Regions from separate parts of the Homo sapiens genome. Here region 1 is linked to region 2. A link means that fine-mapping ties the variant in region 2 to the expression of a gene that starts in the linked region. Tissue or cell type: esophagus muscle. Region 2 holds a variant in brackets; the other region holds the start of a gene. All regions are shown on one strand. Distances are from middle to middle.

Region 1 (4,887 bases), 120 kb after region 2:
GATCGTTTGAGTGCAGAAATTTGAGACCAGCCTGGGCAACATAGCCAGATCCCATCTCTATTTTTTTTTTTTTTTTTTTTTTTGGAGACAGAGTCTCACTCTGTTGCCCAGGCTGGGGTGCAGTGGCGCGATCTTGGCTCTCTGCAACCTCCGCCTCCCAGGTTCAAGCAATTCTCTACCTTGGCCTCCCGAGTAGCTGGGATTACAGGCATCCACCACCACACCAGACTAATTTTTGTATTTTTAGTAGACAGGGTTTCACCATCTTGGCCAGGCTGGTCTCGAACTCCTGACCTCGTGATCCACCCGCCTCGGCCTCCCAAAGTGCTGGGATTACAGGCATGTGCCACCACGCCCAGCTAATTTTTGTAGTTTTAGTAGAGACGGGGTATCACCACGTTGGCTAGGCTGGTCTAGAACTCCTGACCTCAGGTGATCTGCCCGCCTTGGCCTCCCAAAGTGCTGGGATTACAGGCGTGAGCCACTGGGCCCAGCCTACAGATGGGATTAAGTTGATGCTATTGAGATGAGAGAGCATCCTGGATGCCCCAGGTATATAATATAATATAATATAATATAATATAATATAATATAATATAATATAAATATTAATAATATAATATATATAATAGTATGGTTTAACCAGGCACCATGGTGTGCACGTGTAGTCCCAGCTACTCAGGAGGCTGAGGCAGGAGGTTCGCTTGAGCCCAGGCATTTGAGGCCAGCCTGGGCAACACAGAGAGACCCCCAGCTCTAATAATGATAATAATAATAATATAGTTTCCTAGTCTGCTGCATAATGTTCCTTAATATAGCTGTTCTGTAATTCTCTTGTAACTGGGCCTCTGCTCCCCGCAAAATCATGTGATGCCCCCAAGTCCAGACACACAGCCTTTTGGGGTAACAGAAGATTAAATATGGGCGCAGGCCACCTGGGCATCTCGGTTCATTGCCCTCCTAAGATGAACTTCATCTTTGTTTCAGAGGACTCATCCCTTAGAAAGGATGATAAGGTGCAAGGCGTGGTGGCTCACGCCTGTAATCCCAGCACTTTGGGAGGCCGAAATGGGAGGATCGCTTGATCCCAGGAGTCCAAGACCAGCCTGGGCAACAAAGTGAGACTTCATCTCAAAAAAATAAAAATAAAAATACAAAAGTTAGCAGGGCGTGGTGGCACGCACCTGTAATCCCAGCTACTCAGGAGGGTGAGGAAGGAGAATTGCTTGAACCCGGGAGGTGGAGGTTGCAGTGAGCCAAGATAGCGCCACTGCACTCCAGCCCGGGTAACAGAGCAAGACTCCATCTCAAAAAAAAAAAAAGGCAAAGTGGCCAATTCTTGGATTCCTCCCAGGACAGGGAACTCACCCCCTCCTGAGGCTACCCCTTCTATGGCTCTATGAAAATTTGGGAAAAAAAAAATTACCCTGTGGTCCCAGCTACACGGGAGGCTGAGGCGGGAGGCTGGCTTGAGCCCAGGTGGTCAAGGCTGTAGTGAGCTATGATCACGCCACTGCACTCCAGCCCAGGGGATAGAGTGAGACCCTGTCTCAAAAAATAAATGAATAAAAATAAAGATAAAGGCCTGCATTGGGTGAAAGCAGATTGGGCGTTTTGGTCACCCCAACCACAAAGCCATCGCTGGGGGCCAGGGCCCTGTCCACCAAGACCAAGTGAGATCAAACTGTTCTGTGAGGTGAAAGCGGGTGGGGCCCCCACCCTCCATATGGGGGAGGAAATCCCGGCTGGAAAAGGGGTACCTCCTACCTACGGGCAGAGCCAGGTCCCTCCAACTCCCAGGCCCCCCTTTTACCCTCCAAGGAGGGCAGCTCTAAGAAGTTTGCATCCGGATGATTACAGTTCCCGATGATTCTGTTACTCCAATTTTCCCTTAATGTTGATGATTATGATAATGATATTGATAGCGGCTGACATTTTGAAAGCTTTTTTTTTGTCAACCACCAATAGCCCTCTGAGACGGTGGGTGCTCAAATGGGCGACACTGAGGGAGTTGGAATTGCAGAGTACGAAGTGTCCTCTGGGAGTCCGGGCTTGGCGCCTTGCTTATCTCCCCGGACGGGCAGCTCACTCTCCCTCACCCCCGGTCCCCGCCGCGCGCACTGGCGGCGCCCGTTCCACGCTCCAAGAACCCCGCTTCCCAGGGTGGGTGGGGGGTGCACGCCCGACAGGGCCAGGTCAGGGCCAGGCGTGGAGCCCGCGTGCGCCCCGGGACCCCGCCCGGGGCGCGCGGGAGGCGCCGGGGGCCGCGGAGGCGGGGCGGGGAGGGGCCGGCGGCGGCGGCGGCGCGCGGAGGAGACCGCAGTGCGGCCGGCGCTAGGACCCGCGGGGGCCTCCCAGGCCGCGGCGCCTCCCGCTTTCCCCCACTCCCCGACCCTTCTTCGCCCCCAAAATGAGGAAACGGAGCAACTCGCTCCAAGTTGTGCAGCCGGGACCGCCTCGGGGTGTGCAGCCGGCTCGCGGAGGCCCTCCTGGGGGCGGGCGCGGGGCGCGGCTCGGGGGCGCCCCCTGAGCAGGTGAGCACGTCGGCGGGGAGACGTGGAGAGACCCCGAGGCCGGGGTGGGGGGAAACCCCGAGGGCTCTAGGCGGGGGTGGGCCCGGGACGTGCGCAGGAAGGGCCGGTGTGTGCGCGAGTGTGCGCGTCCCGGGCGCGCAGCGGGTGCGCGGCTGGGGCGGAGGGTGCTCAGAGGCGATCGGACCCCGCGTGGTGGTGGCTGGGGTTTCCTGGGTGCGGGTGTGCGCGGCTACGAGCCCCGGGCGTGTGTACCCGCGCGTCCACGTGGAGGGCTGTGCGCGTGTGGCCGAAAAGCGTGTGCGCGGCCCTGCGTAGCGCCCTGCGTGCCCGAGTGGCCCGGCGCTGGCGCCCAGGTGTTCCAGTGTGGGGCGGCTGTGTGTGTGCCGGGGGCGGGGGACAGGTGCGCACGTTCCCAGGTGTGGAGCGCTTGTGCGCGCGGATGCGCGGGGACGTGTGCGCACACCTGTTTCCACGTGGACGTGGTCCTTTGCTTGTCTGCGCGCAGCTGTGTCCGAGCCCTGTGTGTTTCTGTGCGTGTGCATGCATCCGTATGCGTGTGAGTACACGTGGGACTGGAGGATTTCATGGGAGGCGCATCTTGGAGGGGCCGAGACTCACCCCCCAGCACCGCCCACTTCCCAGCCACTAGCGGTCGGGGAGATGGGGGAGGCAGGGAGGCTCCCCCACCCCTGCAGCAATGAGTGACTTTGTGTGTCTGTCCTGGGTTTGGGGGGGGATCAGAGAGGCTCAGCGGGTGGCCGGAGGAGCCCAGCAGGGCTACAGGACCCGCCCCTGCCCCCAGCTCCACCCCACGGTCAGAGATTCTTGGGAATGACCTTGACTCATCCCTATTTCCCCACCCTGCCCCTGCCTACCAACCAGAAAACAGGAAGAACCAGGCTCGGTCCAGTGGCACCCAGCTCCCTACCTCCTGTGCCAGCCGACTGGCCTGTGGCAGGCCATTCCCAGCGTCCCCGACTGTGACCACTTGCTCAGTGTGCCTCTCACCTGCCTCAGTTTCCCTCTGGGGGCGATGGCGGGGCGAGGCTCTCTGGTTTCCTGGCGGGCATTTCACGGCTGTGATTCTGCTGAGGAACTTCCCCGGGTAAAGATCACTTCCCCACAGGGGCTTGGGGAGCCAGTTCTGGGTCCCATCCAGGATGCCTCTGGGGAGGCTCTCTCTGCCTGCCCAGCCATCGCCCCCACCTGACCTGGGCTGGAAGTGGTAGGAACTGGACCGTGGGTCCCAGCCCAGCTCCCACCTGGACTCTGTCCCCTCCCCAGGTGAGCCCCCGCTTCCTCCGAGCCTGGCACCCCCCTCCCGTCTCAGCCAGGATGCCAACGGTGAGTGTGTCTAGCCTGCTTCCTCTGCTCCCCGGGTCCTTCTTCAACTCCGTCCACACCCTGAGACCCCTTCCTGAAGGGCTGTACTCTCTGCCCCCTACCCCCTTCTGCTGGCCTCGGCCTGGCCTTTCTCAGTCATCTTGGCTTCCTGACCTTCTGTCCCAGGCCGCCTCTCTTTGTGACTCTACGATTTCTCTCTGAGCACCCCACTCCCCCTTTCTTTCCCCCGATGTCTGCGTCTGTTTTCTCTGCCTCTCCGCTCTTTTCCAATCTCTATACCTTTCTCCCTCCTGTCCTCTTTCCCCTCCCGTGCCTCTGCTCCCCACATCTCCGTGATGTCCTCCCTTTGCCCCTCTCCCGGCCCCCTCTGCAGAGGCGCTGGGCCCCGGGCACCCAGTGTATCACCAAATGCGAGCACACCCGCCCCAAGCCAGGGGAGCTGGCCTTCCGCAAGGGCGACGTGGTCACCATCCTGGAGGCCTGCGAGGTGAGAGGTGGCCGGCGGGTGTGGGTGCTTGGGGCTGGGGGCTCCACCAGGACCACCCCCACACCCCCCACACTAACCCCGTGCTTCCTCCCTGGCAGAACAAGAGCTGGTACCGCGTCAAGCACCACACCAGTGGACAGGAGGGGCTGCTGGCAGCTGGGGCGCTGCGGGAGCGGGAGGCCCTCTCCGCAGACCCCAAGCTCAGCCTCATGCCGTGAGTGGGCAGGACAGGGGCCTGGGGTAGGGGACAGCAAGTGACCCCCCCTCCACAGCCCAGTCTGACCCACCCCTTCCGTGGCCGCAGGTGGTTCCACGGGAAGATCTCGGGCCAGGAGGCTGTCCAGCAGCTGCAGCCTCCCGAGGATGGGCTGTTCCTGGTGCGGGAGTCCGCGCGCCACCCCGGCGACTACGTCCTGTGCGTGAGCTTTGGCCGCGACGTCATCCACTACCGCGTGCTGCACCGCGACGGCCACCTCACAATCGATGAGGCCGTGTTCTTCTGCAACCTCATGGACATGGTGG
Region 2 (4,887 bases):
TTGGGCAGACATGAGTTCAAAGCCTGACTTTGGGCCGGGTGCGGTGGCTCACGCCTGTAATCCCAGCACTTTGGAGGCCGAGGCGGGCAGATCACCTGAGGTCAGGAGTTCGAGACCAGCCTGGCCAACATGGCGAAACCCCATCTCTACTAAAAATATAAAAATTAGCCGGGCACAGTGGTGGCGCCTGTAATCCCAGCTGCTTGGGAGTCTGAGGCAGGAGAATCACTTGAGCCCAGGAGGCGGAGGTTACAGTGAGCCAAGATCGTACCATTGCACTCCAGCCTGGGTGACAGAGTGAAACTCTATCTCAAAAATAAATAAATAAATAAATAAAGGAGAAGAGACATATCTCTTGTGCAGACAAATTGTGAAAGCAGCCCATCTTCTTCTAGGCTTTCTCTGACTCTCACCCTCCTGTCTCCACTCATGAGGATCCTGTAACGATGTCAGGCCACCTGGATAATACAGGATCCAGGATAGTCTCCTATTTTAATCAGAGTGCTCCAGGGAAACAAATCCAATAGGACGTGTGTGTGTGTGTGTGTGTGTGTATACATATTTTTTTCCTATATGTATGGAAAAAAAGAGAGAGGGAGAAATTTATTTTAAGGAATTAGCTCGTGTGATCACAGAGACTGACAAGTCCTCAATCGGCAGGGCAGGCCAGCAGGCGGGACGCCTAGGGAAGAGTTGATGTTGCAAAACCGTCCGCAGGCAGAATTGTCTCTGCCTGGGGGAACCTCAGTCTGTTTCTCTTAAAACCTTCAACTGATTAGATGAGGCCCACCCACATCACAGATGGCTGCCTGCTTTAATCCAAAGTCTGCTAATTTATTTTGTTTTATTTATGTATTTATTTTTTTGAGATGGAGTCTCACTCCGTTACCCAGGCTGGAGTACAATGGTAGGATCTCAGCTCACTGCAACCTCCGCCTCCCAGGTTCAAGTGATTCTCCCACCTCAGCCTCCCAAGTAGCTGGGATTACAGGCATGCGCCACCAAGCCCGACTAATCTTTTTTTGTTTTGTTTTGTTTAGACAGAGTCTCGCCTTGTCACCCAGGCTGGAGTGCAATGGCACAATCTCAGCTTGCTGCAACCTCCGTCTCCTGGGTTCAAGCGATCCTCATGCCTCAGCCTCCTGAGTGACTGGGATTACAGGCAAGTGCCACAATGCCCGGCTAATTTTTTTTTTTTTTTTTTTTTGTATCTTTAGTAGAGACGGGGCTTCACCATGTTGGCCAGGTTGGTCTCAAACTCCTGACCTCGTGATCTGCCCGCCTCGGCCTCCCAAAGTGCTGGGATTACAGGCGTGAGCCACGGTGACCTGCCTTTTTTTTTTTTCTTTTTAAATAGAGACAGGCGGCCGGGTGCAGTGGCTCACGCCCGTAATCCCAACACTTTGGGAGGCCAAGGTGGGAAGATGGCTTGAGCCCAGGAGTTCAAGAGCAGCCTGGGCAACATAGTGAGACCCCATCTCTACAAAAAACTACAAAAATTAACCAGCCATGGTGGTGTGTACCTGTAGTCCCAGCTACTCAGGAGGCTGAGGCAGGAGGATCTCTTGAGCCCAGGAGGTTGAGGCTGCAGTGAGCCATGATCACGCTACTGCACTCCAGCCTGGGCGATACAGTGAGGCTCTGTCTCCAAAAAAATTTTGTTTGGCCCTCACAGGTTTATTTTCCATATTCTGCTTAACTGAATGTCGTTAAGTGGGGCTGGCTGCCAGGTCCTCCCCAGACCCCACCTCTCCCCACGGTGCCAACCTGGGCCCTTTCCCTGCCTCCGGAGGCACGTTGCAATCGCCAGGTTACGGCTAAAACTCTCCTCTGGCCGCCCAGGACTCCCATCCCCGGGATCTGGGGCTTCAGAGCCTGATACATTATGATTTTTTTCCTCTGCTGAAGAAAAAACATGCCAGGCGTGGTGGCTCACGCCCGTAATCCCAGCACTTTGGGAGGCTGAGGCAAGAAGATGGCTTGAGCCCAGGAGTTCAAGAGCAGCCTGGGCAACATAGCTAGATCCCATTTCTACAAAAACTACCAAAATTAGCCAGCCATGGTGGTGTGCACCTGTAGTCCCAGCTACTCAGAAGGCTGAGGCAGGAGGATCTCTTGAGCCCTGGAGGTTGAGGCTGCAGTGAGCCATGATCACGCCACTGCACTCCAGCCTGGATGACAGA[G/A]TGTGACCCGGTCTCCCAAAAAATGTATATATTTGGGTCTAATATAAGGTATTACACATTAAAATGTATATGTTTAGAGCTCCAGATAGCAGAGCCTCCCAGTGCACCCTTGGCTGTGCTGACTTTGTGCCTCCAGGGCATTTGGCATCACCTCATTTAATCCTTACATGCCCCCTCTGCGAGAAGCTCGCTACCTACATTTAGTAGATGAGGCATTGGGGCACAGAGAGGCTGAGTGACTAGCACAGGGACACACAGCAACACAGCGTGCTGGCTTCATGAGAGCGCCATCATCCATTGTGTCTCTCACCCACCACGGCCACTTCCACCATAGACCCCAGGACAGAACATTCTACCCACGGTGTGTGGCCTCTGACATTTCTACAGTTACAGCCCCAGGCAGGGCTGAAACCCGGAAACACTGAGCCTGTTTCCGCCCTTCTGTGGACGTGGAAACTTACAGGATGTGTCTTCCACCGGGCTGCCAAGCAGTTCCACCCCCGTCTCTTCTGGGAGTGGCCTGCGGACCCATCCAGGAACAGGCATCAGTCGCCGGGCACCAGAGATTCAGGCAGAGGACAGTGGAGTGGCCCAGACAGGTCCAGCCAGGCGAGTCAGACAAGAACAAAAGCAAAACACATTTAGTTCTGGAGAATCACTGGACCTAAATATATACATTTTTTTGGAGACAGAGCCTCACTGTATCGCCCAGGCTGGAGTGCAGTAGCGTGATCATGGCTCACTGCAGCCTCAACCTCCTGGGCTCAAGAGATCCTCCTGCCTCAGCCTCCTGAGTAGCTGGGACTACAGGTGCACACCACCACGGCTGGCTAATTTTTGTAGTTTTTTGGTTTTTTGTAGAGATGGGGTCTCACTATGTTGCCCAGGTTGCTCTTGAACTCCTGGGCTCAAGCCATCTTCCCACCTCAGCCTCCCAAAGTGTTGGGATTACGGGCGTGAGCCACCACAAGCGCATGTTTTTTCTTTTTCTTTTATTTTTTTCTTTTGAGACAGAGTCTCGCTCTGTCGCCCAGGCTGGATGGAGTAGAGTGGCATGATCTCGGCTCACGGCAACCTCCGCCTCCCGGGTTCAGGCCATTCTTCTGCCTCAGCCTCCTAAGTAAACTGGGACTACAGGTGCCCGCTACCATGCCCGGCTAATTTTTGTATTTTTAGTAGAGACGGGGTTTCACCATATTGGCCAGGCTGGTCTGGAACTCCTGACCTTGTGATCTGCCCACCTCGGCCTCTCAAAGTGCTGGGATTACAGGCATGAGCCACCGCGCCCGCCCAGCATGTTTTTTCTTTAGCAGAGGAAGAAAATTATAACGCATCAGGGCTGAAGGGCTTCTTTTAGATAATCAAATTTATATTAAGCCTTTTGGAGATTTTTGCACGGCTTGAGGAGAATGAAGGTTTTTCCCCAGCATCACATGACTTCAAAAACTTTGAAATAAGTTAGTAAGTTGAATTCTCTCTAGGGCGACCCTGTGGGATTTGGTCTCTGATGAGTTGTTGACTCTCAAATGCAGCAAAAAGTATTAAAAATAAATAAATAGATAAAACCCCCACAAAAACCTGAGTCAACCAGAAGAGATCTCTATGTCAATGCTGGAACAGTTTGTGCAACCAAATAAATAATGAAATATTGAATTATAACCCAAGATGTAAAATAAATGTCTATGAGTCCATACGGATATAAATAAGTCACTGAACAAATAAACAGGAGAGAAGAGACACATTTCTTGTGCAGAAGAATTGGAAATAGTTTATGTACAGTTCTGCCCTCAAGAAGATGAAGGATAGGCCGGGTGCGGTGGCTCACGCCTGTAATCCCAGCACTTTGGGAGGCCGAGGCGTGCGGATCACGAGGTCAGGAGATCGAGACCATCCTGGCTAACATGGTGAAACCCCGTCTCTACTAAAAGTACAAAAAAAATAGCGGGGCGTGGTGGCAGGTGCCTGTAGTCCCAGCTACTCAGGAGGCTGAGGCAGGAGAATGGCATGAACCCAGGAGGCGGAGCTTGCAGTGAGCCGAGATCGTGCCACTGCACTCCAGCCTGGGCCACAGAGCAAGACTCTGTCTCAAAAAAAAAAAAAAAAAAAAAAAAGATGAAGGATAACTCTGTGTAGGCTGTGTATAGTGATGTCATTCCAAAAAATACAGGATGGGCCAGGCGCAGCAGCTCACGCCTGTAATCCCAGCACTTTGGGAGGCTGAGGCAGGAGGATCACTTGAGCTCAGGAATTCGAGACCAGCCTGGACAACATGGTGAAACGCCATCTCTACTAAAAATACAAAAATTAGGCAGGCATGGTGGAGGACACCTGTAATCCCAGCTATCAGGAGGCTGAGGCAGGAGAATCGCTTGAACCCGGGAGGCGGAGGTTGCAGTGAGCCGAGATCGTGCCACTGCTCTCCAGCCTGGGTGACAGAGTGAGACTCCATCTCAAAACAAACAAACAAACAAAACTATCAAGGGCATCAAAACAAGAAAGACAGGGAGACTGCCACAGTCCAGAGGAGTGTCAGGAGATGTGATAACTAAATGTCATCTGGGATCCTGGATGGGGTTGTGGGGCAGAAGGAAAAGGACATTAGGCCAGCCTGGGCAACATGGCGTAACTCTGTCTCTACAAAAATTACAAAGATTAGCTGGACGTGGTGGTGCCTGTAGTCCCAGCTACTCTGGAGGCTGAGGTG

What was found. PIP is the estimated chance that this variant, and not a neighbour inherited with it, causes the effect. A credible set is the group of variants that fine-mapping cannot tell apart.
Region 1: MATK starts here. The variant in region 2 is the best candidate, but not a certain one, in a credible set for the expression of MATK in esophagus muscle (GTEx, PIP 0.68).

What each region holds. Positions count from the first base shown.
Region 1 is chr19:3,783,816-3,788,702 of GRCh38, reverse strand. MATK (megakaryocyte-associated tyrosine kinase) reads left to right here and starts at 2,322. Exons shown (of 14, transcript NM_139355.3): 1 at 2,322-2,534; 2 at 3,417-3,639; 3 at 3,819-3,878; 4 at 4,252-4,365; 5 at 4,464-4,579; 6 at 4,670-4,887. The coding sequence starts at 3,568. RefSeq lists silencers at 1,165-1,363, 3,238-3,532 and enhancers at 3,238-3,532, 2,894-3,889.
Region 2 is chr19:3,900,303-3,905,189 of GRCh38, reverse strand. It overlaps ATCAY (ATCAY kinesin light chain interacting caytaxin), which reads right to left. Exons shown (of 13, transcript NM_033064.5): 3 at 2,645-2,703. Among named protein-coding and RNA genes, the nearest start is that of ATCAY, 22 kb to the right of the region's middle. The variant G/A (reference allele first, on the strand shown) is at 2,184.